Linked DNA regions of Homo sapiens: all the other regions are linked to region 4. The links come from fine-mapping of genetic effects on gene expression. A gene starts in region 4. Each other region holds a variant in brackets. All regions are shown on one strand. Distances are from middle to middle. Region 1 overlaps ZNF451 (zinc finger protein 451). Region 2 overlaps RAB23 (RAB23, member RAS oncogene family). Region 3 overlaps ZNF451 (zinc finger protein 451). Region 4 holds the start of KIAA1586.

What was found. PIP is the estimated chance that this variant, and not a neighbour inherited with it, causes the effect.
Region 1: its variant is the best candidate, but not a certain one, in a credible set for the expression of KIAA1586 in blood mononuclear cells (TOPMed, PIP 0.70).
Region 2: its variant is the best candidate, but not a certain one, in a credible set for the expression of KIAA1586 in lymphoblastoid cells (GTEx, PIP 0.66).
Region 3: its variant is the best candidate, but not a certain one, in a credible set for the expression of KIAA1586 in macrophages after interferon gamma (Alasoo 2018, PIP 0.73).

The regions. Positions count from the first base shown.
Region 1 is chr6:57,112,666-57,120,800 of GRCh38, forward strand. The region is part of intron 3 of ZNF451 (zinc finger protein 451); the gene reads left to right. ZNF451-AS1 (ZNF451 regulatory antisense RNA 1) reads right to left here. Exons shown (of 4, transcript NR_110742.1): 3 at 2,791-2,898; 4 at 2,246-2,593. Among named protein-coding and RNA genes, the nearest start is that of ZNF451, 27 kb to the left of the region's middle. The variant C/A (reference allele first, on the strand shown) is at 4,225.
Region 2 is chr6:57,196,209-57,204,343 of GRCh38, forward strand. RAB23 (RAB23, member RAS oncogene family) reads right to left here. Exons shown (of 7, transcript NM_016277.5): 4 at 242-398. Among named protein-coding and RNA genes, the nearest start is that of RAB23, 22 kb to the right of the region's middle. The variant G/C (reference allele first, on the strand shown) is at 4,437.
Region 3 is chr6:57,134,574-57,142,708 of GRCh38, forward strand. ZNF451 (zinc finger protein 451) reads left to right here. Exons shown (of 15, transcript NM_001031623.3): 7 at 171-297; 8 at 6,729-6,882; 9 at 7,375-7,522. All of the region lies in intron 2 of ZNF451-AS1 (ZNF451 regulatory antisense RNA 1), which reads right to left. Among named protein-coding and RNA genes, the nearest start is that of ZNF451-AS1, 34 kb to the right of the region's middle. The variant A/G (reference allele first, on the strand shown) is at 4,166.
Region 4 is chr6:57,042,662-57,050,796 of GRCh38, forward strand. It overlaps KIAA1586, which reads left to right and starts at 4,032. Exons shown (of 4, transcript NM_020931.4): 1 at 4,032-4,115; 2 at 4,652-4,735; 3 at 8,113-8,135. The coding sequence starts at 4,095. RefSeq lists a silencer at 2,790-3,084 and enhancers at 3,714-3,803, 4,620-5,497.

The sequences.
Region 1 (8,135 bases), 70 kb after region 4:
TCTCTGGGTAGTAACTGTTCTTGCAGAGTGCTTTCTTCCTAGGTTATATCACCGTGTGTGGTATATGGAGCAAAATTGTTCCATTTCACAGAGAGGTCTAGTGACTTCATGTTCATAATATATTCATATTTCTATTAAAGTAATTTTGTAGAAAATATAAAATGGAAGCTTTTTGGTTCATCAAGAACTAAAGTGCTTTCTGAAATTAGTAATAATGATTTACAAATATAAGTCATTTCTTTATCATTAAAAAGCCACAAAGTAGTACAATGCTATGAGCTATTATAAAATAATTTCTTCTATGAAGCCCAGCTTTTTGTTCCTTTTTCTTTTTTTAAAGCCTTTATTTTAGGTTCAGGGGTACATTTACAGGTTTGTTTTATAGGTAAACTTGTATCACGGGGGTTTGGGGTACAGATTATTTTGTCACCCAGGTACTAAGCGTGGTAACCGATTGTTATTTTTCTGGTGCTCTCCCTCCTCCCTCATTCAGGCCCAATGTCTGCTGTTCCCCTATTTGTGCCCATTGGTTCTCATTATTTAGCTCCCACTTATAAGTGAGAACATGCAGTATTTGGTTTTCTGTTCCTGTGTTAGTTCACTAAGCCCTCCAGCTCCATCCATGTTCCTGCAGAGGACATGATGTCATTCTTTTTTTTTTTTTGGCCGTATAGTAGTCCGTCGTGTATATGTACTACATTTTCTTTACCTAGTCCTGCTTTTTAATATTGTTTTCTAGAAATTGCTTTGCAAAAGTAAAATCACTCCATTAATTCCGCATTCCCTTTGAGTTAATATTTGCAAACATTTAAAGTAACTGATTTAGCTAGTTATCACAATAAGTTACTCAGAGGTTCAACTTTTCGATGAGTGATGTATGAAGAATAAAGTGAAAGATCTGCCTGAATTTAATATTTGTAAAAAATATACTCATGGGTCTTCTGAGAAAAAAAAATTTTTTTTTTTTTTTTTTTGAGATGGAGTCTCGCTCTGTCACCCAGGCTGGAGTGCAGTGGTGCAATCTCGGCTCACTGCAAGCTCCACCTCCCGGGTTCACGCCATTCTCCTGCCACAGCCTCCCGAGTAGCTGGGACTACAGGCACCCATCACCACACCCGGCTGATTTTTTGTATTTTTAGTAGAGATGGGGTTTCACCATGTTAGCCAGGATGCTCTCGATCTCCTGACCTCGTGATCTGCCCACCTCGGCCTCCCAAAGTGCTGGGATTACAGGCGTGATCACGCCACCGCGCCCAGCCGAAAAATTTTTTATAAAACAGTTTAGAGCCAGTTCTGTCTGGCATTTAGCTTCCTAAACCATACTACATTTTCAGGATCGAGAGTGAATTGTTCAAGAAATAGGCATTTGTAGATGAATTTTAACAGAAAGTTCATGTATGAAGTCATATACATTCATCTGAAGTTACTTAAGTAGAAATTTAGCTTCTACTAAAAATTTATTTTGGTTTTTAATTAGCTTCCTTTTGAGCACATTTGTTAAACTTACCTAAGAGAACTTATCTTTGTGATTGGAAAAACTAAGAATCCTGCTTTCTATATTTACATTCCAAAGAAGAATAGAGAAAGGTCAGGTCTAAGTGAGCTGAATAAGCATATATTTTTAAGTTTCAACTTTTAATTTGACTAAGTGTACTTTCATCAGTATTTTAAATACACTTTAAAATACAAAATCAGACATGCTTTTAGGAAAACCATATATGTAAAAAAATATATACAAATTTGTGTTTTAGCTAAATGTTTTTTGCTTTAAGTGATAACGGTGTTTGGCTTGAAATTTGTGTAAAAATATTTTCCCAATAGCCATTAAGCTTGTTGACCTGAAAGTGACTTTCCTTAATTCTTGATTAATATGTTTCTGTTGAGTTTGGAAAATAATGTAACCCAATCATTATACATATAGGGACAAAAATCTGAGAAAAGTTACATACAATTTACTAATAGATTATGTTCCTTCTAGATGCAGCATTTCTGTCTATATTTTTGTAGGATATATATTAAACATATTTTTATAAGGCAAAATTAGTGATTTAAACCAAGTCCATTATGTTCCCAAACAAAAGACTGAGATCCTTAACATTTTTGTCTTTGTATAGTCTTCTTCATTAATAATTAAAATTAGTTAACAATTTTATTACATATGCTGATTGTAGAAAAATTAGAAAATAAATGTAAAAAAGAAAAAACCCTCCAGACAGAAATAACCACTATTTAACATTTTGATTTATATAGCTTTCTAGATTTTATTCATATATATATTTACAGGATCATTTTCACTTAAAAACTGCAAGTGTTGCTTGGCACAGTGGCTCATGCCTGTAATCCTAGCACTTTGGGAGGCCTAGATGGGAGGATTGCTTGAGGCCAGGAGTTCAAGTCCAGCTTGGGCAATACTGCAAGACTCTGTCTTCACAAAAATAAGAAAAACTTGCTGGGAGTGTTGGTACATGCCTGTAGGCCCAGCTACTCAGGAGGCCGAAGTGAGAGGATTGCTTAAAAGTGAGCTCAGGAGGTTGAGGCTTCAGTGAGCTGTGGTCACACCATTGCACTCTAGCCTGGGTAACAAAGTGAGATCCTGTCAGAAAAAAAAAGTATCTAATTGATTGATCTATTAGTACTAATAGGGAAGAGATGTTGAAATGTAAGTTTAACATTATCATTTCGTTGATTATGGGATTTTGTGTCAGGTTGTCATTTCTAGACTTGGACTTTTTGCTGTAACTCTACCAGGATACATTAAAAGATAAACGTTGTTTAGAAGTGTTGCTTTACCTGTGTATGCTTAACTTTCATGGAGATGTTTCGTCAGGTGTAACCAGTATCCTCAATATGGCTATCATTTCTAGGATACAACCGAAATTTGCTCTGTGCATGTTTTACCTAAAATTTTAGATAAAAATGTAAAGAAGTATATTTGAGAATGTAAGAATTTCATAGTGACTGAACCAGAATCTGCCTTTAGGCTTCTTCTGGCTTTACATCCTCCTTAATTCTATGCAATTCTGGGTATGGAAGAAAACTAATGCAGAAATTGATCTGAAGTATTGGCAAACAGAAGACCTCCAATTTTCCCAATATTTTTCCTAAGGCTTTCCTGTGCTTCTCCCCAACACTGATTGGCTAGCATTGATAGCTTATTCACTGTCGGTATGGACCCTTTAATATTATGTGTTTTATTTAAAGACATTAGTCCAGGGTGACCATAGGAAATACTTCAAGGAGGATAACCCTGAAGATCCTATAGCTGCTAATACTCAAAATGAAACTTAAAAAAAATAATGATTTTTGCCATGGATCAGAGCCAATTCAATTCTAGCTTGAGAAGTGAATTCAGGTCATATCTGAAAGCCTTACCTTTGTTAGAAATTAGGTCCAAAGACCTAAGTGATAATTCAAGTTATGGGCTTTGTGGGAGATGGCAAATCCAGCCTAAGGAAAGGAGTTCTGGAATTTTACAATTTCACATTAAATTACACGTCAGTATGTGGCATTAGGGGAATGGTAGAAATTCTCAGTGCTAAGAATTGAGTGGCCCCTTTAACCAGCTACCTTGACCCCCAAAGCCAAGATTTGTAATGGAAAAATATTGTATGGGCAGGGTGCTGTGGCTTACGCCACAGCACTTTGGAAGGCTGAGGCTGGCGGATCACTCGAGGTCAGGAGTTTGAGACCAGCCTGGCCAACATGGCGAAACCCCATCTCTACTAAAAATACAAAAATTAGCCGGGATGGTGACACACACTTGTAGCCCCAGCTACTCGGGAGACTGAGGCAGGAGAATCGCTTGAATCCAGGAGGCAAAGGTTGCAGTGAGCCGAGATCACACCACTGTACTCCAGCCTGGGTGACAGAGCAAGACTCTGTCTAGAAAAAAAGAAAAAGAAAAATATCATATGACTAATAGTCTGCCTCATATACCTAATCTTTTCCCAGTTTAAAACATCTTTCTTTAATATACCCGTTTTCTCAGTTTTAAAGTTTCTCAGTTCAAAATTGGCAAAGATTTCAGAGTTGAAGCCCTTGCTTTCTCTACTACCATTCCTTTTCCTCTACTCCTAGCAGATTTCTCCCAAATCTGTTTTCAGTATTGGTAGCCAGAGTTCCTTTTTTTCTTCCTTTTTAAGAAGAAAATAGAACCAGGCATGGTTGCATGTACCTATAGGCCCAGCTACTCTGTAGGATGAGGTGGGAGGATTGCTTGAGCCC[C/A]GGAGTTTGAGTCCAGCCAGAGGACCTTATCTCTAAAGGAAAACAAAACAAAAAAAAAAAAAATGAAGAAACTTTCTCCTCACAGGGAAGAAGTAAGCCCAAAGTCAATTCTAAGATGCCTTTTGTTTTCAGCATTAGGGCTTGTGGGTCTTTTCAGCCCTTCAGTGTTGTGAAAGAGAATAAACAGATCAGCAGAATTAGTAGAGAATAACAGAGGCAATTTATTGAGACATAACCATATACAAGTTGAGTGTCCTTTATCTGAAATGCTTGGAATCAGAAGTGTTTGGGTTTTAGATATTTTTGGATTTTGGAATATTTGTGTTACAGCTGTTGGTTGAGCATCCCTGATGTGAAAATCTGAAATCTGAAATGCTCCAAGGAATGTTTCCTTTGAGCTTCATACGGGCACTCAAAAAGTTTTGGATTTTAGAGCATTTTTTTTTTTTCCAGATTTTTGGATTAGGGAAGCTCAACTTGTAGTTAAATAAAATATGTAGGCTACTAATAGCTAAATATAAGAAAAACAATTGTAGTAAATAATGACAATCCCAACAGGTTTTAAGGCCTCCAAGATGGTAGGCTAGTGATTAATTTTAGAGTGAAGTTGAAGAGATCTAAATTAATGTTTAAATGGCTAAACAACTTATCTTCCTAGTGTCGTGAGTATGTTTTGATAGCACGTGAGTATAATTTGAAGGGAGTGAAGTTTTAAGAATATACTTATGTGACTAGTGAATTACTGAAATTTTTTCCTACTGAATATATAATTGCTGTGTTTCTGAATTTAATTTTCATTGACCTTTGCATCAAGAGTATATGCAAAGGTCAGTGAAAAGTATTGCATCAGATTCATTTAGTATGCTTTAAAGTAAACATTAAGAAGAATAAATATTATGTAAAGCTTTCCTGAATGACTATAACTTCAAAAGTAACTTAAAATGGTTTTATTATGGCCTAGAACAAAGTAAAATGATAGTGGAAACATCAATTCAAGGATAGTTCTTCCCGAGTTAGGATTACCTAAATTTATCCAAAACATGGCCTTCTTCCTGTCCCTAGAATATTCACATTGTTGTTGTGACACAGGAATTTCGGAGAGATGAAAAAAATCCCTTGATTTCCTATCCTTACACCCACATGGCTGCATAAGTGACTTAATGTTTGATTAGGAAATATTTTGTTTGGTGTAAGGGTAGCAACTTGAAATATCTTGATAAATTTTCTGCAGCTTCTAGTCTCCAGACAAATTTAGGCATAAGATATACTTTCTGTTTAGGAATGTCAGTCCTTCTCTCAACCTTTAGGAGAATTGTCATTACTGTCTTTTTTTTTTTGGTAGGTAAACAGTAATTTATACCTTGTCCACTTTGCCTGTATGTTAATGTGACCTTGGTTTACCAGGACTTTCAAGCATGACTTTTGTTAAAGTTTAAAACCTAGAAAGTATTATCTCTGTTGAGAAAGTTAACACACTCTATACCTGTGTTTAAATTTTACCAGCATCTTTAAATTAAAGTTTATATTTGTGATCTATGCTAAATTTCCTTCTCGAGGTAGTATCTACATTTTGTAGTTTTTGCAAGGAATAAATTTAATTTGACCTTTCTCCCCCTTTTTTTAGAAGAGAGTCTTGCTTTGTTGTCCCCCAGGCTGGATCATAGCTCTTTGGAGCCTCGATCTCCTGGGCTCAAGCAATCCTCCTGCCTCAGCCTCCTGAGTAGCTAAGACTATAGGCACATGCCACCACACCCAGCTAAATTTTTAATTTTTTTGTAGAGACGAGGCCTTGCACTGTTAGCTGGGCTGGTCTCCAACTCCTGGGCTCAAGTGAACCTCCTGCCTCAGCTCCCAAAGTGCTGGGATTACAAGTGTAAGCTACTACGCTCGACCACTAATTTGCTTTTAAGGCAGATTTGCCTGTACTAAGGGATCAAAGTTTAGAAAAATAACTTCCTGTGACTGCCATTTCTGAGGACCTGCATTGCCCTGTAACTTGTAAAAGGATATTTTGAAGTTAGTAGAATGTCACCTACTACCTGGGTGCAAGGCTGTATGCTGTCCAAGTAGTCAGAAAGTGAGCTGGGGTTACTTCTATCTAAAGTGGTCCTATAAACAGTCCCTACTGCAAAGGTGTAGCCTCATACTGAAAATACCAATTTGGCCTTTTTATATATGCTTACTTCAGTATAACTTCTTTCTACCTCTAGAAAGAAGTCATACCTGCTGTTTGACTTGGCCAGTGCACCACTATCCCACTTTAGATAAAAATTGGGTTGTACATATGTGACTGATTTGCCCAAAGAGTGATATTTTATTTGTAACCAATCATTCTGGTAGAAAAAGCCAGGGAAGGCCGGGGCGTGGTGGTGCACGCCTGTAATCCCAGCACTTTGGGAGGCCAAGGCGGGCAGATCACCTTAGGTCAGGAGTTCGAGACCAGCCTGGCCAACATGGAGAAACCCCATCTTTACTAAAAATACAAAAATTAGGTGGGTGGTGGCACGCGCCTGCAATCTCAGCTACTCGGGGGCTGAGGCAGGAGAATCATTTGAACCTGGGAGGCAGAGGTTGCAGTGAGCCGAGATCGCGCCACTGCACTCCAGCCTGGGTGACAGAGCAAGACTCCGTCTCAAAAGAAAAAAGAAGCCAGGGAAGATCTATTATTTTTCTTTTCTTAAAATAGACTTTTTAAAAAGAGCAGTTTTAGGTACACCATAAAATTGAGCAGAAAGTACAGTCAGACAGTGTCCACTTACCTCCTCCCCTCCCACCCCTCCATGCAAAACCTCCACTATCCTCATTGGAAACTACAGGGTACATTTGTTTCAATCTGTGAACCTCCATTAACATATTTTGTGCTTCTAGTCTCTAGAAAAATGTAGGCATAAGATATACTTTCTATTTCTTTCTATTTAGGAATGTCAGCCCTTCTTTCAACCTTGTAGCAGGAGAATTGTCATTACTTTTTTTTTTTTTGGTAGGTAAACAGTGATTTATAAGTTGTCCACTTTGCCTGTATGTTAATGTGAGCTTGGTTTACATTAGGGTTCATAGTTTACATTAGGGTTCACACTTGGTGTTATACATTCTCTAGGCTTTGACAAATGTGTAATGACATGTATCTGTCATTGTAGTATTACTGAAAATAGTTTGACTGCCCTAAAAATCTTGTGTGCCCTGCCAGTTTATCCCTCCTCCTTGACTATCCTGTCAGTCACTGATCTTACTACAGTTACCGTAGTTTTGCCTTTTCCAGAATGTGATATGTGGCCATACAGTATGCAGCCTTTTCAGATTGGCTTCTTTCACTTAGTAATCAGGTGCTTTTAAGGTTCCTCCATGTCTTTTCACAGCTTGATAGCTCAATTCTTTTTAGCATTGAATAATGTTCTATTGTCTGAATATACCAAAGTTTATCCATTCACCGATTGAAGGACATCTTGGTTGCTTCCAAGTTTTGGCACTTATGATACAGTTGCTGTAAACAGCTGTGTGCAGGTTCTTGTGTGGACATAAGTTTTCAATTCATTTGAGTAACAACCAAGAAGTCCAATATGTTTAGTTTTGTAAGAAACTGCCAAACTGTTTTTCAAAGTGGCTATACCATTTTGCATTCCAACCAGCAATGAAATGAGAGTTGGCTCTTGCTGCACATCCTTGCTAACATTTGATGTTGTCAGTGTTTTAGATGTGGCCGTTCTAATAGATGTATATTGGTATCTCGTTGTTTTAACATATACTTCCCTAATGGCATATGCTGATCTTTTCATATGCTTAATTTGTAATCTGTATATCTTCTTTGGTGAGGTGTCTGTTTAGCTATTTCCCCATTTTTAAGGCAGGCTGTTCATTTTCTTATTGTTCAGTGTTGAGTTCTTTGTACATATTGGATTACAGTCCTTTATCAG
Region 2 (8,135 bases), 150 kb after region 4:
AAGAGCCTTCAAATTTTAATCCTTTAATTTTATCTACTTAGGAATCAATGAATTTTTTAACCCAAACCAATCACATAGAATAGCTCACAGAAATTTTAGGTAAATTAAAATATTTAAGTCATTAAAGCCTTCAAAATGAAAGTATAGAATTTTTCCTAGAACCTGTAAAACTATGCAAAAATTAAGATGTCTTAACTTTATAGAATTACTGTCCCTCCTTCCCCAAAAGTAGCCATCTTACTTCTTTATACAAGAATCATCCAGAAGATCAATCTTGTTTTGCACAAGTACAGTTGGTATATCTCCCACTTCGGCTACTACTTTCTCTCTCCAACTGGAAACTGCTTCAAAAGATTCCCTATCTGTGGTAGAGAACACGAGCACACAAGCCTGGGCTCCTGTAAGTTCACAATCAATCAATCAATCAATCAAGGTATTTACATTAACATATTACATTTACATTAAGAAAACAATCTCATGAAGAATGGGGGCAACTTTTATCCATTCAAAACAACTTTTATGTAAATAAATGTTGAACTCATCTTTGTACTACTCTTCTTTACTTTTCAACATATAAACTCTATTTATGTTGAATTCATCTTTGCACTACTCTTCTTTACTTTTCAACATATAAATTCTATTTTCATTTTTACCAAAAACAGTGGTTCTCAAATGTGTTCAACTGTCAAAGTACCTCAAAAGCATACACATTCTTTTTGGAATACCATAAAATACTGATTTAATTCCATTATAAAAGCTAGAGAGAATGGTAAACTAAAATTACAGGCTGTTGCCAAATTCTTCTTGTTAATTTGCTTCTTAATTTCTTTCAGCGTAGATTTAAGAAAAATGTCATTTGCTTAATTTCTTTCAGCGCAGATTTAAGAAAAATTTATGAGAAAAAAATCATAATTTGTTCATTCTATTCACTTTTTAAATAAATTGTATTATTTTATTTCAGTAGAATACCAGTGATCCTAAGGAACATAATTTGAAAGCCAATGCCAAGAGTATATATATATATAATAGAGGGGTTGGGGGAAACTTAGTTTTACCCTGTTTAACTGCATAATTTTACCCACCCATATTGTATCCATTGACAATATTTTAACCATCAACTGTCATTTTAGGCTGATAATATCAAAGACTAAAATAAGCAGAAACCTCTTAGAAGAAGCAGTTTTATAAATTATTAGCTATTGATTCAGGTAGCATGGTGATAAAAGCAGGCATGTAAGCAACAAGAGAAAATCATCCTGGGGGTCAAGAGGATTTCCTGAAATCAAGGCATGTTTTCTTACCATTACTCCTTCCTTACACATCCCTCTGGTATAAGAGTTTTCTACTAAGACTCAAGATATGTCTGGGCTATCTAAGACACTCTAGAGCCAAAACTAGTCTGTATATCTATATATCACTGGGGGAATACTGTAGAAAGCAAAAGACCACAGAAAGAAAACAGCAGTTTGCTATTACTGTAAAAACAGAAGGTTCATTTGGAAAATCTTCCCTACCCTAAAAACAGGTTTTTTGTTTTCTGGTTTTCTTGAGACAAGGTCTCACTCTGTTGCCCAAACTGGAGTGCAGTGGCATGATCATGGCTCGCTGCAGCCTCGACCTCCTGGACTCAATCAATCCTCCCACCTCAGCCTCCTGAGTAACTGGGACTTACAGGAGGAGCCTGCCATCATGCACAGCTAATTCTTTGTTTTTTTGTTTTGTTTTGTTTTGTTTTTGTTTGTTTGTTTTGTAGAGATGGGTCTCCCAATGTTGCCCAGGCTGGTCTCAAACTCCTGGGCTCCAGCAATCTGCCTGCCTCAGCCTCCCAAAGTGCTGGGATTACAGGTGTGAGTGACTGTGCCTGGCCTAAAAACAGGTTTTAATCCAAATAATAAATGAATAATGCAAAATACAGAAAGAGAGAGACAAAGACACCCTGAGACCTTCTCAGAATTTAAGGGAAAATAAAACTGAAGAGATCACATTAGTATACCGATAAATAAACTTATATTTACTTGAGCTGTAATATTTACCTCAACTACAAATAAAAAAAATTATGTAATCATATTTTAAGAAACTGTGGATCATGAGGTCAGGAGATCGAGACCATCCTGGCTAACACGGTGAAACCCCGTCTCTACTAAAAATACAAAAAATTAGCTGGGTGTGGTGGCGGGTGCCTGTAGTCCCAGCTACTTGGGAGGCTGAGGCAGGAGAATGGCATGAACCCGGGAGGTGGAGCTTGCAGTGAGCCGAGATCGCGCCACTGCAAGACCAGCCTGGGCAACATGGCAAAACCCCATCTCTACAAAAAATACAAAAATCAGCCAGGCGTGGTGGCACACACCTGTAGTCCCAGCTACTCAGGTGACTGAGGTGGGAGGATTGCTTGAGCCTGGAAGGTTGAGGCTGCAGTGAGCTGTGATTGTGCCACCGCACTCCAGCATGGGCAAAAGGGTGAGACTCTGTCTAAAAAAAAAAAAAAAATTTGTTCTTTATCATAAAACTCAATGAATTACCTTTAAGCCTACAGCTTTATGTCCAGCTGTCATTTAAATTTGAGGGCACAATAGGGTATTTCCAAGTGTTCAAGGTCTCAGACACTTAACCAAAAAAACCTCTTAGAGGAAGCATATATGATGGAAAAAAAACCCCAAACAGATAATGCCAGAGATACGGGCAGTAAGAATGATTAAGAAAAGCTCAACATTATTTAAAAAATCAAAGACCAAAAGAAAGTATGTCCATAACAACCCCAAGATTATTTAGCAGGGGACAGAATGGGTACAGACCAGAGAAATGTGGGAATGTGCCAAAGTGCTTGTGTGAAGAAAGGGAAGATGTTTACATAATCAGGGAGGTAAATAAACAAACCCTGCAGCAGAGGCCTGTGGCTGCATGCATGTCCCCTCAACCGGGCTTCAGCGCAGCTGTGGAGAACAGTTCCTGTGCCAGTTGCTCCTGCCTATGCTGCAGGGGGCTCTGCTGTTCTGCTGGGGGCTGTTCTGATGCATCCCCCAAGGGGGAAGTGATGCCTCTGGGTGGCGGGGGGGTGGAATGAACACCTCAGCCTCCCTTTGGTGGGCTCCTGAGGCCTCTCTTCATGGTTCCTCAGGGAGACTGAGCCCCAGTGGCCCACAGTGATACTTAGAACGCTTTACTGGTTTTTCTCCCTTCCTTGCCTCATTCTCCCTAGTCTTTCACTCTACTTCCTGGGATCATGTCCCAAATAAACGAGCCCCACCCATGTGGCGCAGTGGGAAGGCACACAGAGGCTTAAACTAAGACAGTAAATGCCTTAAGTTAAAGGCAATCACCTTAAGAATAAGAGAATGTATGACTATTAAACCACAGGAGAAAAATGGATTTCTGCAGTATAAAGAACAAAATGAAAAAACAAGAACTGCAGGAAATAAAAAATCTGAAATAAGATCGCAAAAATAAGTCCTAAGAAGATAAATTACAATCTATAGAAAGAATGGTACACAAATCTCCAAAGCAGGACGGTTCACCTGATACCAAGCCTTTATATCAAATGCTGCACCACCTTGTCTGATTTAACCTAAAAATATTACTAAAATGGAAAAAAAATCAACTGGATTACTTTTTATGGATTACTTTTATGGTTATAATAATTCTGACAAATGTTGGACAACCACTTGTTTCCATTTCCCCTAACTGAATATCATCTTCCATCTAGACAGATAAAATACTTTGTCAAACTGTGATTCATCATGGTTCTTTTATGTTTGGAAAAATCCTAATGACCGGAAAGCCCTTTCTAATATTTAGTTTAAAAAGCTCAAAAGATGACCCCTTACCCTCCACCCTTTTTTAAAAAAAAACTTTGACTGAGGTACCAATAAAGCATGTAACAAATACAAGATTCCAAGATTTATGAGACAGATCATTATTTGCAGAATTTAGAAAGCAAATGGCTGATCCTGCTGCACAACTCTGAACTCCCTCAAGCACTTCAAGAATTTTTTTTTTTTTTTTTAATATGAGATGGGGGTTGGAAAGGAAAAGGATCTGTAAAGAATGTCTTGGCCGGGTGCGGTGGCTCATGCCTGTAATCCCAGCACTTTGGGAGGCTGAGGTGGGCGGATCACGAGGTCAGGAGTTCAAAACAAGCCTGGCCAACATAGTGAAACCTTGTCTCTACTAAAAATACAAAAATTAGCTGGGTGTGGTGGTGGGCACCTGTAGTCCCAGCTACTTGGGAGGCTGAGGCAGGAGAATCACTTGAACCCTGGAGGAGGAGGTTGCAATGAGCTGAGACCATGCCATCGCACTCCAGCTTGGGTGACAGAGTGAGACTCTGTCTCAAAAAAAAAAAAAAAAAAAAAAGAATTTTTTTAGAGGAAGTACTGTACTCCAAACCCTTTCTCCTGCAAAAAGGTGCAGTAGGATGGATGAGGGTGCTATCACCACCT[G/C]CTTCATCTCAAACCTTAAAGAATGGATGCTGACAAGACCAATTTAGGAAGCTGTTACGTATTTCCAGCAACTGGCGGACATTAGGGACTAGTGATGCCTTGATTCAAGCCTGAGAAAAATGCAATGGGTGAGAGTGAGAGTGAAAAATCAAAACCAGCAGACAAAAAGCAGAGAGCTATATTGGGAAGGAACTGTGCCTCTCCCAATGGCAGGGCAAAGAATGCACATGAATTTCATAGGGGCAGAGATGAACCACATCTAAGAGATACCAGTAATGGGGCTCTGGACATGCTAAACTAAAATATGGCACCTTGACGTACTGAATATTTTAAGCTGAAGGAATCTGAGAAAACAGCAGAAGCAGGAGAGTCACTTTGATCTCCCCTAGCCCCTTCTCCTCTGAAGCAGATCCTAAAATTCAGGAAGGATTTTCTCTCTCTCTTTTTTTTTTTTTTTGAGATGGAGTCTTGCTCTGTCGCCCAGGCTGGAGTGCAGTGGCATGATCTTGGCTCACGGCAGCCTCTGCCTCCCGGATTCAAGCAATTCTCCTGCCTCAGCCTGAGTAGCTGAGATTACAGGCGCCCACCACCATGCCCAACTAATTTTTCTATACTTTTAGCAGAGATGGGGTTTTGCCATGTTGGCCAGGCTGGTCTTGAACTCCTGACCTCAGGTGATCCGCCCATCTTGGCCTCCCAAAGGAAGGATTTTCTGACCCTCACCTGAAGGAGGTCATAAGCCCCTCAGGTGAGAGGTGACCTCCATATACCCAGAGGAAAGGAGAATCCTCATTTCTGAAGAGAGAAGGATACCAAAAGGAATCTGAATGAACCTCTGCTGATGAATCTTGCTAAGTTTCCTCCAGTTTACTGCTCTTAGCTCATATTTGTCCTATCACATTCTTCAACAACTTTGCACTCTTCCTCAAACCTGGTATAAAAACGTTCAGGTTTAACTGTTTATTTGGGTTTTCATTTCCTTATGAAGGTTTCTTTGTCACATAAAACTTATATTAAATAAATTCATAAGTTTTTCTCTTGTTAATCTGTCTTTTGTTAGAGACCCAATCAAGGACCAAAAAGAGTAGAAGGAAAAAGATATTTTTCCTCTCCTACAAACCAAAGTCACAGTAAAAAACTGTAACAAAAATCTATTTCATGTCGTCTGTATCTTTCTGTACTAACTAAAATCACTGGTTCCTACTGCCTGGAGTCAACTTTCTAAAAAGCTTTAGAGAAATCACTTGGGATCCCAGAGGCTTCCTAATCTGTGCTCTGTTGTAACCTATTTACAAGAAGGTCTTGTTTCAACATCTCTCACTATACAATTAAGCCAGCATTCCAAGTCCATAATAATACCTTTGAGCAATGGCTTTGATATAATGGGTCTTTTAAATGAATTATAATAAAATTGTTCTTTTTAAAATTTTAATTTGTTGATTTTTATGCATCATTAATAACACATTTCTAGGATTTAAATCAGCAAGTCATAACTATATATGGCATAGTGTTTCTACCACTACATTTGTATCTTAATTCATTCTTTCTAGCCCTTACCTTCTCTTCTTACTTTTATTTCTATTTAATTTCATCACTATCTAAATCTGTACTAGCAGCAGATATTGTCTGATTGCCTAGGTGGCATCTCTCCCTAAAAACACCTTTCCCCCACTGTATAGTAGCCATATGGTTTAGGTAGACTAAACCTATTCTCTGCTGGAGGTGGGAGTTGTGGTGGTGGCAAGGAGCACAATGTGATCCAAGTCAATTAATCACATTCCTCTCATTATTGCAATCAGGTCAAGGGTGGTCTAATCAGAGAAAAGCTCAGGACATCTGAACCACTGCTGTGGGAAGTAACCCTCTCTCCCCAAGGATGTAAACAAAGCATGTGGCTGTCATTGCTCCTGGTGATAATCTTGCAACCCAAAAGGAAATCAACATGAGGAGGTACCGGTACCACACAGGGAAGAGACAAAGCCAGGAGAATCAGTAAGGTTATAGGCTGAACAAACAACTAAAAGGGATGCTATTTCCAGACTTTTCTATCAAATCAGTAAGTCTCTGTAGTTTTAAGACAGTACGAAATTCCTTTTATTTGGCAGCAACCAAAAGCATTCTAATGGAACCCCAAAGAGGTTTCCCAAAGGGAAAACATAAAATAATGTTCAATATACTGTTTTTCAATTTTATGTATAATTGCTGTTTTTTCTTTAATTCATATTGTATTGTGATAAATGTTTACTTTTACCATTTAGAAAAAGAAGACGCTGAAACTGAGGACCTATCTCAGTATCTCACCCTCTTTGCCATTTTAATACAGTCAGCTAAAAAGTTAAATTACTAAGATAGGCTGTTTTTTTTTTTTTTTTTTTTTTTTGAGACAGAGTCTTGCTCTGTCACCCAGGCTGGAGTACAGTGGCATGATCTCGGCTCACTGCAGCCTCTGCCTCCTGGGTTCAAGCTATTCTCATGCCTCAGCCTCCCCAGTACTGAGATTACAGGTGTGCGCCACCACACCTGGCTAATTTTTGTATTTTTAGTAGAGACGTGGTTTCACCATATTGGCCAGGCTGGTCTCGAACTCCTGACCTCAGGTGACCTGCCGGCCGCAGCCTCCCAAAGTGCTGGGATTACAGGCGTGAGCCACTGTGCCCAACCAGTTTTGCCTTTTTAAATTATAGAAACATAATGTCAAATATATTCTCTAAAAATAACCCTATTGGTTAAAAAGTAATAACTGCCACATCAAACTGTCAAAAGCTTAGAAAGGATTAGGCCAGCCTATCTGTTTCCTCAAAAAAAAGAACAGACATTTCATGCAGAGAATTTAGAAGACCAAGTTCACTAGATAAAAATAAAATAATGAAAATCTCAAGTAATCCTACTTCTTTCTGGTGTTTCCACATAGGTTTTATGTTTATTTTTTTCCTGAGTGTGTGGGGAAGGTAGTGGTAATAACCCCATTAAAAAATACAAATAACTTTTACTCAAGAATAAAACTGTACATTTAGGACCTGTTAATCAATACTGTCAAGGCTGATGAAATTCATAATTTGATACAAATATCATCTACTTGAATGACAGAGGGGTAGAAAAAAAATACCATCTACTCCAAGAACGGCTTGGGGTAGTAAAAACATAATTCTCAACCTTAGACCATGATACAGGTGCTCAGGATCCAAACTGGTAGCCACAGAGAATAACCAAAGCTACTGTGGACGGGAAGCCTTAAAGTACACAGTAAATAGAGTGGTAAGTAGTGGTGGCAAGAAACCAAAATATGTTTTAGAGCAGGCAGTGGAAGTCAAGTTTCCTTGGTACCAATTTAGAAAGGCAACTTCTTTGGTCATTTGTATGTTAGTACAATCATGAAACCTTAGTTGTCATTATTACAATAAATCCTACATTTTCAAAAGCGAAAAAAATAAGCTATATATTCAAAAGTTACATGAATTCACCCAATTTCTCAAGTATATCGATTTTATATAACTGGTGTAAGTTTGTAAATAAGCAAGCTACTTCAATAAAATCAGTGGTAAATCCTGTCTAAAAGAAGAAATTATGTGTTTATATGATACTGTACCTAAAAGTTCATTAACACTGTCACTTGGAACTTTCATATATATAGATTTCTTCAAGAGACACATACTGGTATACTGCTATTCAATATATCTATTCTATTTTCAAGTACTGCTT
Region 3 (8,135 bases), 92 kb after region 4:
GAACCACTTGATATTTACTGTATATGAAGAACATTACTTAATATTTCAGTAGAAAAGTGCAAAGTTCTGAATGTGTGTGTATGTGTTTAGCTTCACAAATGAAGCGACATAGTTGTTTCCCTAGAATGTAGATTTATCTAATATTACCTCTTACCTCTTTTGCTGAGTAGGTTCGATCACTCTCCATGTGATCCAACAATTACACTACATGGACCTTTCTTCAGCTCCTTTGCTTGTGTAGTATGTTATAAAAAATTTGTTACTCAACAACAATATAGAGATCACCTTTTTGATAAGGTAAGAGCATGTCCTAAATTAAAAGTATTATTTTTCTAGATAGCCATGGAGTTAAGTGGAGGTTTTTTCCTGCTGTTCTTAAGCTTGCAATTACCAGTGATACACATAAGTATCAAAACTGTAATTGTCAATTGAAAATAAAATGATTTGGGCCATTTAGTTATTATAGGCAGGTAAACTTGATACCTTACAGTCAGCAGTCCTAGAGATTATCATCAAAATCCTTTCATGGAGTTGCTCTATGAAATTAAATTACCTTGTTCAAGATGCTCTGAGTGAGTCACTTGATGAGAACCAGAACCCTGTTCTTAAGTCCACTGTCTTACACTGCTTGTTGAAATGTTGGCGCCATATAGTAAATGACAAGTTATTAATGCTAGTTTTTGAGGAATATAACTAGTATTTAAAAAGCTATGTCATATAATTCTAAGTAAGTGTTAAATCTTAAGAGACATGAGTTGATTCATGGATATGCACATCCATGTAATACAGAACTCTAATGGGTTTTTACCATATTTGATAGTAGATAACTTTAATGACTTACTAACATTGCAGAAGTAATGTATGTTCATTATGAAAAATTTTTAAAATATTAACAAAAAGACAAGAAGTCATCCTTAATCTCACAGAGATAAGGACTGGGATTAAGATTTTGATATATGTGTTTTTAGTATTACTCCATATATAGATAAATGTTTTTACATAAGATAAGATATCTAAATTGTTCTGTGATTTAAAGCAGTGTGTTGCAAACATAAAAGCTTAAATATTCATCGAATCAATGCATACATTTCTACATTTTAAATCATTGAATTGTTTTCTTCTGTATGAATATAGTATTAATTTAATAAATTTCCCATTGGATGTATTGTTTGTTTTCTATTATTAAAAACTATGCCATATTAAATATTCTGTTAACTAAAAACCTTTGAGAATATCCATATTTGGATATTTGAGTAAATATCAAATTGGATTTACCGAATAAATATTAGATTTTGAAATAGTAAAACATTTATTTAGTTAATGTTTTCAGAATTTGCTTCTATCTAGAGCTATACCTGGAAAGTAACATGGAGAATAGCTTGGATTCTGTGTAGGTTCACAGCAGAGAATTAAAGCTTGCATTCTAAGTATATCTAATTGAATTCTGCAGTCCTCCCCATCTCTGTCCTGGCACTAGAGAACATTCCCAGAACAGATGTGCATCTTGAAGCAGATTTTATTTTACACTGACTCATTAGTTTTTGGAGAGCCTGCGTCTTGTTCAACATTGACTAGGCACTGTAGTAGGGTAGTCTTGGGGATTCCTAACAAAAATAAATAGTAACATGATCATAAAGACACAGGATTTTAAGCTTGATATTGGCAAGAAGAAACTATTATAGAACAGTGACATGATGAAAATAACACATTATTCTTTTAAAGTTAGAAGGACTTCTAATTCTATAGCCCAATTCCTTCCTTTTTTTTAGAGACCCTGAAGAGACTGAGTGGCATTAGAATGGCAGTATTGTTCAGAATGGATTCAAAGATGTGGACAAAGAGACCAGTTTAGATGACTTTTACAGTAATTTAGCTCTGAGATGAGAGAATTGTTTGACTTAGGTAATGGCATTCAGAATGAAGACCTTAAAGTGAAACCAAAAGACATATTGAAGAAAGAAATGATAGGGTTATCCATTTCCATGACAAATGGAAGATTTGGGGAAGGAAGGGAAAAAGGGTGAAAGAGAACTGCATTCCGTACTTTAGGGTTTGCAGTAGGTTACTGATGTTCTGCATTTTCCAGAATTAGAGTTCTTTCAGGACATGTTTCCCTATTCATATACTGAGTGTTTTCTCTACTATAATGAGTATATATGTCTGTTTTCTTTAGTAAATTTGAGTAGGTAGTTTAAAATGAATTTTTTCACTTATTTTTTTCCCCAAATTTCATTAATTTGTTTTTTCTTTTTTCTCGGAATCACACATTCCATGCTGTTTTGCACTCCTTTTTGCCGTCTCTCTAGGAAGTAGATTTATGACCTTCAGCGTTCTGAAAAGCAGTATGGTAACATAGAAAGGGCAAAGGCTTTGGTATCAGACAGACCTGGGTTCCACTGTTACTATTATTTGCTTCATATTCTTAACAGGTTACTGAATCTGTGAGTTTAGTTTCTTCATCCCTAAAATGGTATCGTTATGCTTATGTACGAGATTGTTAAGAGAAAATGTAATACTCTATTTCAGGCCTGACCTGTAACCTTCAATGATTGCTTATTCCTTGACATTTGTGTCACCACAAGGACTCTAAAGAAAACTAGTATGCATGGGGGGTTGTAATTGCCTCTTTTAAATCAACAAGAAGAGGTCACTAGAAGATTGTATAAGCCTCGCTGTTTTTTATAGGTATGAATTCTGTTTTGTAAAGAGGCAGTCCCCAATGGAAAAAAGTCAAATTATTCACAATTTGCATTGTTTTCCTTGCTCCCCTCCCCCATTTTCTTTCATCTTCAATTTCTTCACTCTAGACTAGGCCTTCTCAAACTTAAATGTACACACATATCACTTGGAAATTTTGTTAAAATGCAGATTCTGACTCAAGATGTCTCAGGTGGAGCCTTAGATTCATATTTCTAACAAGCTTTTAGGTGATGCCATTGCTGTCGTTCCTTGAGTCATACTTTGAGTAGCAAGTTTCTAGTGGCTTTTGACACCTAAACCCATCCAATGGCTATTACATCACCAGATAGCACCCTGCTTTTCTCCCTGTTGTGTGATAGTGGTGGTCGATATACTGTGAGCTCCTTTGTACCTCAGTGTCATTTGTGAGTCTGTTGAAGCTACCACTGGTTATTCTGTTTCTAGGGCTACTGTATCATCTAAGGTGACTTTTCTCCTTGCCTAACCCATCTTCCTCATCCCTAGGCAACCACTAAGCTACTTTGTGTCTCCATGGATTTATCTATTGTGGATATTTTATATAAAAGGAATCACACAATATACAGCCTTTGTGACTAGATTGTTTCACTTCCCATAATGTGTTTCAAGGCTTATTCATATGGTAGCATGTATCAGTACTTCATTTCTTTTCATTGCCAAATAATATTTCATTGTAAGGACATATGCCGCATTGTATTTAACAGTTCATCAGTTGATGGACATTTGGGTTGTTTCTACTTTTTGGCTGTTACGAACAATGCTTCTATAAACCAACATCTAAGTTTTGTGTAAAAATACGTTTTAATTCCTCTAACGAGTTAAATTGCTAGGTCATATGGTACCTTTTTAATTTTTTTGAAGAAGTGCCAAACTGCTGTCTAGTGCACTGCACCATTTTACTTTCCCGCCAGCAATGTTTGTGGGTTTCAGTTTTTAGCCAGTCTAGTGGGTGTGAAATGGTATTTTGGTTCTGCCTTTTTTTTTTTTTTAAGACGGAGCCTCGCTGTCTTGTGCAGGCTGGAGTGCAGTGGTGCAGTTTCGGCTCACTGCAACCTCTGCCTCCCGGGTTCAAACGATTCTTCTGCCTCAGCCTCCTGGGTAGCTGGGATTACAGGCGCCTGCCACCACACCCGGCTAATTTTTTGTATTTTTAGTAGAGACGGCGTTTCACCACGTTGGCCAGGCTGGTCTCGAGCTCCTGACCTTGTGATCTGTCCGCTTCAGCCTCCCAAAGTGCTGGGATTACAGGCATGAGCCATCATGCCCAGCCCTACTTTTTTTATTGTACAAATTTGTATGGTGTCTTTTAATGTAACCAGAAATATGGTAAAAAGGAATTGAGCACTTTAACTTATCAGATATCTTATTTCCCATTCCTTTTCCCAGTTTGTAGAATGTATTTGCAGCTATGCCATATATATATATATATATATATATATATATATAT[A/G]TATGTGTGTGTGTGTGTGTGTGTGTGTGTGTGTGTGTATATATATATATAAAATTTTTTTTTTTTTTTTGAGAGAGAGGTGGTCTCAAATTCCTGGGCAAAGCAGTCCTCCCACCTCAGCCTCCTTAAGTGCTGGGATTACAGGTGTGAGCCACTGCTCCTGGCCAAGTATGCCATATTTTTGTAATAAGTATATTCTAATAAAATTTTATGTAGAATCACATTTTGGTTCTGTTGAGCAAATCATTTAAACAACTTTATGTGAGTTCATTTATAACTCACAATTAAACTAAAAATGATTTAATGAGTTTAGGGTTCTTCAAGTAGGAGAAATATGTATAAATTGGTGGTTACTAAATGCCTTTATTGCTCTTATCATTTAGAATCTTCAAATTGGAATGAAAATGTCCTCCTCGGTGTTATTTCTTCTGTGTGGCACTCATCAAATTAAAACAGGAGGGGAGTGTGGTGGGGAGGGAGTAGTGAAAGCAGCATATAATTCATAACCAAGATTGGAAAGCTGGGTTTAAATGGAAGTTTGTCTTTTCTATGGAGGGGTACAACTTGGGAGGAGGGGTAAGTTGGTTGACTTATCAGAACTTCAATTTTCTCATTTCTAAACAATGAAAATGGTACCTCATGGGATTATTATGAGGATTAAGTAGGTAAACATATTTAGAACCTCAGTGTGGTTCCTGACATGTGCTCGGTATAAATAAAAATTTTTTATCTCTCTTCTGGTTGCATCTCATAAGCACTACACAAACTATACTGATGGTTCTAGTGTTAATGATAGTAAATATGAGGCACAATACAATGTTTGAGGCTATTACTCTAAAGACCATTAACAAGAAGTTAAATTATATTTATAACAAGCACACACAAATATACATACACTTATAAATACACACTTTTTAAAATTTCCTATTTTAAGGTAGAGGAGGCTCTTAACAAGGTTTAGAAACTTAGATGCTAGAAAAGACATACTTATTTGACTGTGTCAAATTTAAAAAGTGACCATAGGCCGAGCACAGTGGCTTATGCCTGTAATCTCAGCACTTTGGGAGGCCAAGGCAAGAGAATTGCTAGAGTCCAGGAGTTAGAGACGAGCTTGGGCAACATGGAAAGACCTTGCCTTTACAAAAAATAAAAAAATTAGCCGGGTGTATTGGTGTATGCCTGTGGTCCCAGCTACTTGGGAGGCTGGGATAGGAGGATTGCTTGAGCCCAGGATGTCAAGGGTACTAGTGGGCCAGCCTGGGTGACAGAGTGAGCTCGTGTCTCAAAAATAAATAAAGAAGACTATAAACAAAATAGATATTTGAAAAAATATTGCAAAATGGAAAATGAGGCAGAGAATTAATTTCAGTAACAAAGGACTGATACAAACTGACCAGAAGGAGAAAAAACAAAACAATTGAGAAATAAAGCTAAATAATATGAATAAAAAATTCACATAAGAACACATCTGGGTAGCCAAAAAATGTATGAATAAATGCTCAAACTCACTTATAGATAGGAAATGCAAATTAAAGTAGCAATGAAGGCCAGGCACGGTGGCTCATGCCTGTAATCCTAGCACTTTGGAAGGCCAAGGCGGGTGGATCACTTGAACCCAGAAGTTCGAGACCAGCCTGGGCAACGTGGGGAAACCCTGTCTCTACCAAAAATACAAAAATTTGCCTGACAAAAATGAAAAAAATCTGTAATATATATTACTGCCAGGCTCATTCAGTACTAGGGGATATGTGAATTGGTAGAGCCTTTTTGAAAACCAGTCATACAGTGTCTTTTAATATTCAAATATATATACCCATTAGCCCTGTAGGGCCACTCTTGAGAATAAGAAAAAAGCACCTACCAGTAAGGATATATATTCAAGGATGTTTACAAGATCATTATTTCTAGTGGGAAAAAAAAACCCAAAACTTAAAAAAAGAAAAAAACTGAAAATAAATGTTGACTGAGTTGAATAGATTGACACCATGGCGTAGTTTGCAACCATTAAGAAGCATTAATTAGAGATATACCAGCTGATTTTTAGGGATTTCCTTTAGGTACTATGGAATGAGAAAACTAATAGGCAGAAGAGCCTATAAAATAATATTTGATAAAACAATGACATTCCCCCTTATTTCTATGTGTCTTTGTAACTGAGTAAGCATGGATAAATTTGTGGAAGAATAATAATGCAGGGTAGAGTGAATAAAGCAAAACATTAGGAAAAGTGTATGTGGTGTGATCACATTTATGCATTTATATATTACATGTGAATGTGTATGTAAAAATGAAAACTATATAGAAAGCAAATGTTCTTCTATATTTGTTACTACAACAGATGGCCATAATTTGGTTTTGAGGAAAAAAAACTAAAAATTTGACATTTGGGACCTCGGTTATGATAAAAGTTCCATAATTCACACTCAGGGAAGAACATCTTTCATGTTAAAAATTGATACAGGATATTGCGAATAAACAACAAATAGGAAATTTTGAAAGTTTTTTTCAAGAACTTGAGTGTTTATTTTAGTTTTCCATAATACAGCTTTGTCTTATATTTTAGGAAGCCACAGATGATGGACATAACAACAACCTTCTTCCTCAGATTATTCAGTGTTTTGCATGTCCAAATTGCTTCCTTCTTTTTAGCAGAAAGGAGGAGTGTTCAAAGCATATGTCTGGAAAGAATCATTTCCATCAGAGTTTCAAACTGGGTGGTATGTTAATACTCTCTTCTGCTGAAAATTAAACTACTTGAATCTTTGCTGATTTATCATACTTCTCAGATCATTCTTGAGATTACATATCCTCATCTTAGTTTTAGAACTATGAAAGTAAAAGATTATCTCAATTCCTACTTAAAAACAAAGATTCTTAATATTTATTTGTACGTATGAGTAAGGCTTACTAACTTTGAAGACTGAAGAAATCCTGGGAAGCAAATATTTATTCAGGATAATGTTATGTTATATCATGATATCTTGGAAGTTTTCTGTTTCTCGGCATTTAAGACTCAAATTTTAATTTGAGTATAAGTAAGGCATTCTTTGTATTTAAGGCTAGAAAGTGGCTTCCCTTAGATTTTTATTGCCAAAATAACTGTCTTCTTTTACTTACTCCAACTAATGTTGAGAAGGGCTGAGGGGAGGAAGGTTGGGTTACTCTGTACTCAAATAACTTTGCAAATTATAGTTTATTTTGTCTTTCAGATAACAAAGGAATTGCACATCCAATATCTTTCCCATCTTTTGCAAAGAAACTTTTGATCTCTCTGTGCAAAGATGTTCCCTTTCAAGTTAAGTGTGTGGCCTGCCACAAGACACTGCGTTCCCACATGGAGCTCACTGCCCATTTCAGGTTTGTATTGGTCTGGAGCTGTAAAGGAATACGGATGAGTGTTTGCCAGTGAGAAGATTCAACAAATACATTTTCTTTCCATGTTTCTCTCCTTTTAAAATGAGAATATACAGTTGCCTGGAAATTAGCCAAATTTAACATAGTGAGAGAAGTTAGAGTTGTGGAAAACGTGGATATATTGATATTCTGCAAGTGTAAAGCAAGCTAACAGTTCTAAGTTTTGTGTATGTTCTTCTGTGTGTGTTCTGTAAGTATGAGTAGGAGAGGAAAGGGTTAAAGTAGAACCTTGGCTTTAAGTCAACCAGAATGGAAAGTATCATATACATTTGAAAGATTAAATCTCAATGAAAGGCCAAATTTATCAAGTAACCAAGAAAGAGTCCAGTATGATTTGTGATTGCCATAGTATCTGTGAGATTTATCTATATTGTTTAGTACATTGTTCCTTCTTATTGGTAAGTAGTATTGTGTGAATATAGCACAATTTGTTGATCCATTCCCTTGTTGATAGATAGTTGGGTTGTTTACAATTTATAGCTTTTATGAATAAAGCTGCTTTGAATACTTTGCACAGGTCTTTTCATGGTCATATGTTTTCATTTCTCTTGGATGG
Region 4 (8,135 bases):
AGGTTGCAGTGAGCCGAGATTGCACCATTGCACTCCAGCCTGGGTGACAGAGCGAGACTTTGTCTCAAAAAAAAAAAAAAAAAAAAAGAGAGAAAGTTTATCCAAAGGGATAATAACAGAGAACTTTCCAAAACTAGGGAAACATACTATTATCCAAGTACAAGAAGATTATATAACATCAAGCAGATTTAACCCAAAGAAGATTACCTCAAGGCACTTAAAATCAACTCTATGTTTAAGAGACATAGCTTAAAGTAATAAAAGCCATCTATGACAAACTCATAGCCAACATTATACTGAACAGGGAAAAGTTGAAAGCATTCCCCCCGAGAACTGGAATGAAACAAGGATGCCCACTTTCACCACTTCTGTTCAACATAGTACTGGAAGTCCTAGTCAGAGCAATCAGACAAGAGAAAGAAATAAAGGGCATCCAAACTGGTAAAGAGGAAGTCAAACTGTTGCTTTTGCTGATGATATGATCATATACCTAGAAAACCCTAAAGACCCATCCAAAAAGCTCCTGGAACTGGTAAATGAATTCAGTAAAGTTTCAGGATACAAAATTAATGTCCACAAATCAGTAGCTCTGCTATACACCAACAGCGACCAAGCTGAGAATCAAATCAAGAAATCAACCTCTTTTACAATACCTATAAAAATTAAATAAATAAATAAAATAAGGTACTTAAGAATACACCTAACCAAGGAGGTGAAGGACCTCTACAAGGAAAACTACGAAACACTGCTGAAAGAAATTATAGATGACACAAACAAATGGAAACACATCCCATGCTCATGGATAGAATCAATATTGTGAAAATGATCATACTGCCAAAAGCAATCTACAAACTCAATGCAATTCCCATCAAAATACTACCATCGTTTTTCACAGAACTAGGAAAAACAATCCTAAAATTCATAGGGAACCAAAGAAGAGCCCATATAGCCAAAGCAAGACTAAGCACAAACAAGAAATCTAGAGGCATCACATTACCCAACTTCAAACTATATACAAAGCCATAGTCATCAAAACAGCGTAGTGCTGGTATAAAAATAGGCACATAGACCAACAGAACAGAATAGAAACCCAGAAATAAAGCCAAATACTTGTAGCCAACTGATCTTCAGCAAAGCAAACAAAAACATAAAGTGGGGAAAGGACACCCTTTTCAACAAATGATGCTGGGATAATTGGTGACCCACATGTAGAAGAATTAAACTGGATCCTCATCTCTCACCTTATACAAAAATCAACTCAAGATGCATCGAAGACTTAAATCTAAGACCTGAAACCATAAAAATTGTACAAGATAACACCGGAAAAAACCTAGACATTGGCTTAGGCAAAGATTTCATGACCAAGAACCCAAAAGCAAATGCAACAGAAACAAAGATAGACAGGACTTAATTAAACTAAAAAGCTTCTGCACAGCAAAAGAAAAAATCAGCAGAGTTAACAGACAACCCACAGACTGGGAGAAAATCTTCACAATCTATACATCTGACAAAGGACTAATATCCAGAATCTACAAAGAACTCAAACAAATCAGCAAGAAAAAAAAAAACAACCCCATCAAAAAGTGGGCTTAGGACATGAATAGACAACTCTCAAAAGAAGATATGCAAATGGCCAACAAACATATGGAAAAAATGCTCAACACAGCTAATTATCAGGAAAATGTAAATCAAAACTACACTGCAAATCTACCTTACTCCTGCAAGAATGGCCATAATCAAAACATCAAAAAATAATAGACGTTGGCATGGATGTGGTGAAAAGAGAACACTTTTACACTGTTAGTGGAAATGTAAACTAGTACAACCATTATGGAAAACAGTGTGGATATTCCTTAAAGAACTAAAAGTAGATCTACCATTTGATCCAGCAATCTGACTACTAGGAAGAGGAATAACCACAGAAAAATAAGTCATTATACAAAAAAGATCCTTGCACATGCATATTTATAGGAGCATAATTCGTAATTGCAAAAATATAGAACCAGCCTAAATGCCCATCAATCAACAAGAGGATAAAGAAAATGGTGTATATACACATACATACACACACACACACACACACACACACAATGGAATAGTACTCAGCCATAAAAAGGAGCAAATACTGGTATTCACAGCAATCTGGATGGAACTGGAGACTATTATTCTAAGTGATGTAACTCAGGAATGGAAAACCAAATGTTGTATGTTCTCACTGATAAGTGGAAGCTAAGCTATGAGGACACAAAGGCATAAGAATGACACATAGGACTTCAGGGACTCGGGAAAGGGTGGGAGGGGGTGAGGGATTAAAGACATCGGGTACAGGATACACTGCTTGGGTTATGGGTGCACCAAAATCTCAGAAACCACCACTAAAGAACTTATGCATGTAACCAAACACCACCTGCTTCCTAAAAACCTATTGAAATAAAAAATACATTTTTATTTTTAAAAAATGTCCATACTACCCATACTACCCAAAACAATCTACAGATTGAATCCAATCCCCATCAAAATACCAATGACATTCTTCACAGAAGCAGAATAAACAATTCTAAAATTTATGTGGAACCACAAAAGACCGAGAATAATAGCAAAAGCTAACCTGAGCAAAAAGAACAAAACTGGAGGAATCACATTACATGACTTCAAATTCTACTACAGAGCTATAGTAACCAAAACAGCATGGTACTGGTATAAAAACAGACACACAGACAAATGGAACAGAATACAGTACCCAGAAATAAATCCACACACTTAGGGCATGGCTACACGGAGGAAGGGGTTTCTGAGCACAATACTCTGTGTGTGTTAACTTTGTAGTTTTGAAGTTAACAAGACCCTGGGCTCGCTATGCAGTCCGTATGTGATGTTGAACCCTTTACACACAGCACTAGACGGTTTTGAACCTATCAAAACACTGCTTCACTTAAATTTCACCAACTCCTTAAAATCCTAGTAAGTCTATGTTTTCCTTTGTTCCTATGTTCTCCTTTTCTCCCACTTTGTGGGTTGTCTGTTTACTCTGCTGATTATTTTTTTTGCTGTGCAGAAGCTTTTTAGTTTAATTAAGTTCAGTCTATTTATCTTTGTTTCTGTTGCATTTGCTTTTGGGTTCTTCATCGCGAAGTCTTTGCCTAAGCCAATGTCTAGAAGGTATTTTTCCGGTGTTATCTTGAGCAATTTTTATGACTTCGGGTCTTAGATTTAAGTCTTTGATGCATCTTGAGTTGATTTTTGTATAAGGTGAGAGATGAGGATCCAGTTTAATTCTTCTACATGTGGGTCACCAATTATCCCAGCACCATTTGTTGAAAAGGGTGTCCTTTCCCCACTTTATGTTTTTGTTTGCTTTGCTGAAGATCAGTTGGCTAATCAGATACCTCATAGCTCCTTTGTTGTATAATTTTGTGCATTGTAGATCAGGGTCAAAATGATAAAGGTGATTTTCTGGGACTACAGACTTGTCAATAACAGGTGGTCCTAGGCTGATAGAGGTAAACAAATAAAAGCTTTAAAAGAATATTCTCTGTTAAAATTTGCTTTCATAAATTTCATGTTTAAAATCATTTGTGAATAAATGTTAAAATAAAAAGGTGAGCCACGATTTTGGTAAGGCAATTTCTGAGCAAATCACACACAATTTTTTTTCATTCCCATTGATCTATTACATAGACGAATATTTGGTTGTGAAAAAGTGAGAGAAAGAACTCGGCTATTTTATTATAGTAGAGCAACACCGAAGGGAGACGACTTCGCTGTAGCTCAGAGTCTTTTTCCATTCTTCACCCACGCGCGGGGCAGTCGCGCGGCGCGGTCGCGCGGCGGGTAGGAACTACCATCCCAGCATCCTCTGCGGCGCGGGGAAGGAAGCCCGGGAATGAGAGAAAGAGGCTCCGGGGAGATAGCGGACCAGTGAGGGCTGCCCCTCTTTTGAAGCGGTTTTCGTCTCTTTCCGCCAGTGGCCTCCCAGCTCACGCAGGGGCGGGTCCCGGTAGCGCGAGGCGGTGCAGGGCGGGAAGGGGAGTGGTGGCGGCTGCGGCAGTAGGGACAGCAGGAGCAGTGGTGCTGTCAGCGCGGCCGTCGGAGACATGGGAGACCCGGGGTCGGAAGTGAGTAGTCGAGTGAGGGTCCTGGCGTTCTCAGAGGCGAACCGCGAAGGGTTTGTGTTTTCTGCGGTCTGAGGCCTGGTGCTCCGTCGCAGCCTCGGGGCGATACCTCTTCAGTGTCTTGGGCCGAGCCCAGCTCTGGGGCCTGGTGCGTGTCTGAGCGAGGAACCCGCAGCAACAATGGCCGCCCGGCCCCCCGCACGGGCCCTGGCGTTCGTTGTGGCCGCGGCTGGGCCAGTGGGAGCGACGTTTTAAGGCAGGATTGCCCTTCGGTGTTGAGCTTGCGTTCCTCCTGGAGTAGATAAGGGGAATTGTGAGAGGCTGGTAACTAACGCGTTTTCAGCGTTGGGTCCCTGCAGCTCCGCACACTCTGTGGCAAGAGCCAGAGCTCGAGTTCCGTTCCTAGTCGGGTTTCCGTGAAATTGTGCTCAGTTCGTTTTCCTCAAGAGCTCTCTGTCTTTAATTGTTCCTTTCGGAAACGCTCTCTTCCTACACGAATGTGGCTGAACAGATAAGCATGTTTTGGCTTGTTTTTATAGATAATAGAATCTGTCCCTCCAGCTGGCCCTGAGGCATCTGAGTCAACAACGGATGAAAATGAAGACGACATTCAGTTTGTCAGTGTAAGTAGCAATGATGATTGGGGTTTTCCCAGAGTAAAAGACTATGGTGGGCCATTATGTAATGTTACCTCACCTGGTCATTTAATGTTCATGAGTGTCTAATACATACTAGACACTGGAGCATGGCGCAGGATTGGGAAATTTACCAAAAGAGCTATCTGAGCCACCCCCGTAGCCATCACAAAGAGCACGTCCTAAAGAACGTGCTGTACACTTAATCTCGCCCCCTGCCTTTCATTTAAACTTAAGATAAAAACGCTGGTGTCTAAAACGCTGTTTTGAAATGGAGCAAGAGTAACTTCTAAAGGCGACACGGAGGAAGGAGCTGCTAATGATGAGCAAGGACGTAGAAAACAGGAAGGGTTGTGAGAGCCCAGAATCTTAGCGTTATGGTGCTTCTAACATGAAGGCAAATAGCTTGAAGATTTCTCTAACCTCTGAGATCATCATGTTACGGCATAGTACAGTTGATGCTCATAATGAAGAATCCTACATCACTGGGAACATGCTCTATTTTTCTGAGTTTGTTCCCTTTGAGACAGTAGTTTTCAAGCCTTAGTAAGTATAAACAGGCAGATTCCTGGGCCCCACTGCAGACCTACCGAATCAGAATTTCCAGGCGGGGGCCTAGGAATCTTCATTTTCAGACAAGTGCAGGGACATAAGGATTTCTGAGCACACTTTGGACAGAATGGGTTTCTAAAGCAGAAGGGAGTGTTTTATGATATATTTTGGGGTGATTTTCATCCATAATTGTTGGAGTTTTAGAAAGGCTTTGCGTAAAGTGGTATCTCAGCTCGCCAGGCAGAAAACAGTTCTGTCCCCAACTCGTCTTTTGGAATGCCGTAGTTAGTTGCAGTTTGGTATTCAGGCTGTAGAATTTTTCTTTAATGGAGTGTCTGTCTAATGTTTCTGTGTTTTTTAGTTTTTGTAGGTTTAGGGCGACTTTGTAAGTCACTTGTTTTTTAAATTAAAATTTCCTCCCTAAACATTGTTTTGTTAACATCGTTGTTTGTTTTTCGTGTTTTGTGTATAAGTTCTTTACCCTGTCACTTTCTGGACATATTTCCCAATTAATAGTGTGTGTATATTTTGTTCCTGACATTTGGAACCTTTCTAAATATTGATGATACCAAGGGAGATTGTATGCTGACTCTGCCTTCACTGTTGTTATGGAGTAAGCAACGTAACTTGAAATCAAAGAGCAATGGTTTCTGTTTTTGTAACGAGAAACATTTGGGAAGAGGAGTTCATGGGTCTTTAGGAAAAATAATTTTGGTTTCCTCTTAACTGGTATAAAAACAGGAATGATTGGGACAGATGATCTTGATGAGTTTTTTGTGCATCTGTATGTAGAAGTGACACACGTCTGATTGATGATCCATGTGCCATTGAGAAAGTATGTAGAAGTGACATACGTCTGATTCATGATCCATGTGCCGTTGAGAAACACAGATGGGATGTACAAAATTAAGTTTGGAAAAGTAAATAGGTATAGATTTGTGTAATATCCTGAGGAATAAATCATTATATTTTAAATTGTGAGTTAATATATAGGCTGTGTTTAGCTGAGGTTTAAAACTCTTACTTTAAATTTTATTTTAAATATAAAGATCCTTCTACATCTTTTCATACAATATTTTGTATATCCAGCGTGATAGAACCCTTTATATTTAACCCTGTTCAAAATAGAAGATCAAAGGTTTGACAGCTCTTATATGGAGAAGTGAATTACATGCTGTCAGTGTAATTGCAGTACCAGAAAGAATGTAGTAAAACATCCCTGTTGCATTTCAGTGGTGCCACATAAAAGACAATGATAACTTAATTCCACTTTGAAATACACTCAGAGACAACTTTCCTTTGTAACCCCATCCTATACTGGGCTCTACCAGGATATGCTTATTTCTCTGTGTTTTTTATAGTACCATCCAGTAAAGATGCAATGCTGCTGGGTATAGTTCTCTGCTTGTGGGTTCTTCAGATTAAAAGAAAAAAAAGTTTGTTACTTCTTGATATATTCTGGTTTGGATTCCTTAGTCTTTTCATATAAATGTTGATTATCTAGCCTTCATTCTGCGTTGTGGCACAGAATCCTCTTTGTGTTCTGTCATGTACCTAGCCTCCAAAATAAACAATATGCTGAAAGAAAGGAATGATAAAAGATTTGGGGATACAAAAAGAGTCCTTATCTTAATGTAAATTTTATTGAAATATAGTACCTATACAGGGAAGGTTACTTCCTCCTTGCCATCACTATTTTTGTACCACATTACCATTTGTCTAGATTGATTATCTTGTTTGTATTCTTCCCACATGCTCTCTTATGTGGTTAACCTTCTTGAAACAGCTCTAATAATGTTCCCATCTTGATGTTATTTATTGATTCCTTTGCCTACAGAATAAAATCTAGGATTTTGACTAGGGCATTTATGGCCTGGTCTATGATGAGGGTAGTGTATATGTAAAGAAAGGATCAAGAAGACTCAGAGTTTGATGTTTGGCTGTACAGTGATGTGGAGGATAAAGCAGGGTTATCAAAGAACTTCGAGATTACTGATAATCATTTCAGTTAAAAAAAATTGTACTATGAAATCTGTTATCTTTTTTTTTTAATGAGGTAGGGCCAGGGGGTGGGTTTTTCACTATGTTGCCCAGGCTGGACTTGAATTCCTGGGCTCAAGTGATCCTCCTGCCTCAGCCTCCTGAGCAGCTGAGACTGGCACTGTGCCTAACTGAAATCTGTATCTTTTTAAATCAATATCTGTGCTATTTCCCATTTTGAAAGGAATCTACATGGCTTTATTCCTCTATATAGATTTAGGCTCTTTGGGTTTTGTCATTATTATGTTTTTTTTTTTTTCCTTTTTACTAGCAGGAACAGTATTACGTATTCATGTACTCTGACTCTTTTCCCATGCCTCTTTTTTTTTTTTAGACAGTGTCTTGCTCTAAATTTTATCTAGGCTAGAGTGTAATGGCATAATTATAGCTCACTGTAGCCCCAACTTCCTGGGCTCCAGTGATCCTCTCACCTCAGCCTCCCAAGTAGCTGGGATTACAGGTGTGAGCCACCGTACCCATCTGATTTTTTTTTTTTGTAGAGTTGGTGTCTCACTATGTTGCCCAGGCTGATCTTGAACTTCTGGGCTCAAGTGATCCTCCTGTCTTGGCCTCCCAGTGTGCTAGGATTACAGGTGTGAGCCACTGCTCCCAGCCCCTTTGCCCGTTTTGTTTCTAATTATTCTGTGCCACTTGCAAGATTTTCTCGAGAATCTTTCCCAATTCCAACTAAAAAAATCTCCCACTGATTGTTAAATTTAAGTTTAATTGGAATGATTGTTCATGACTTGTAAATTTGCCCACTTCCTTTTTAGGAAGGACCATCGAGACCTGTTCT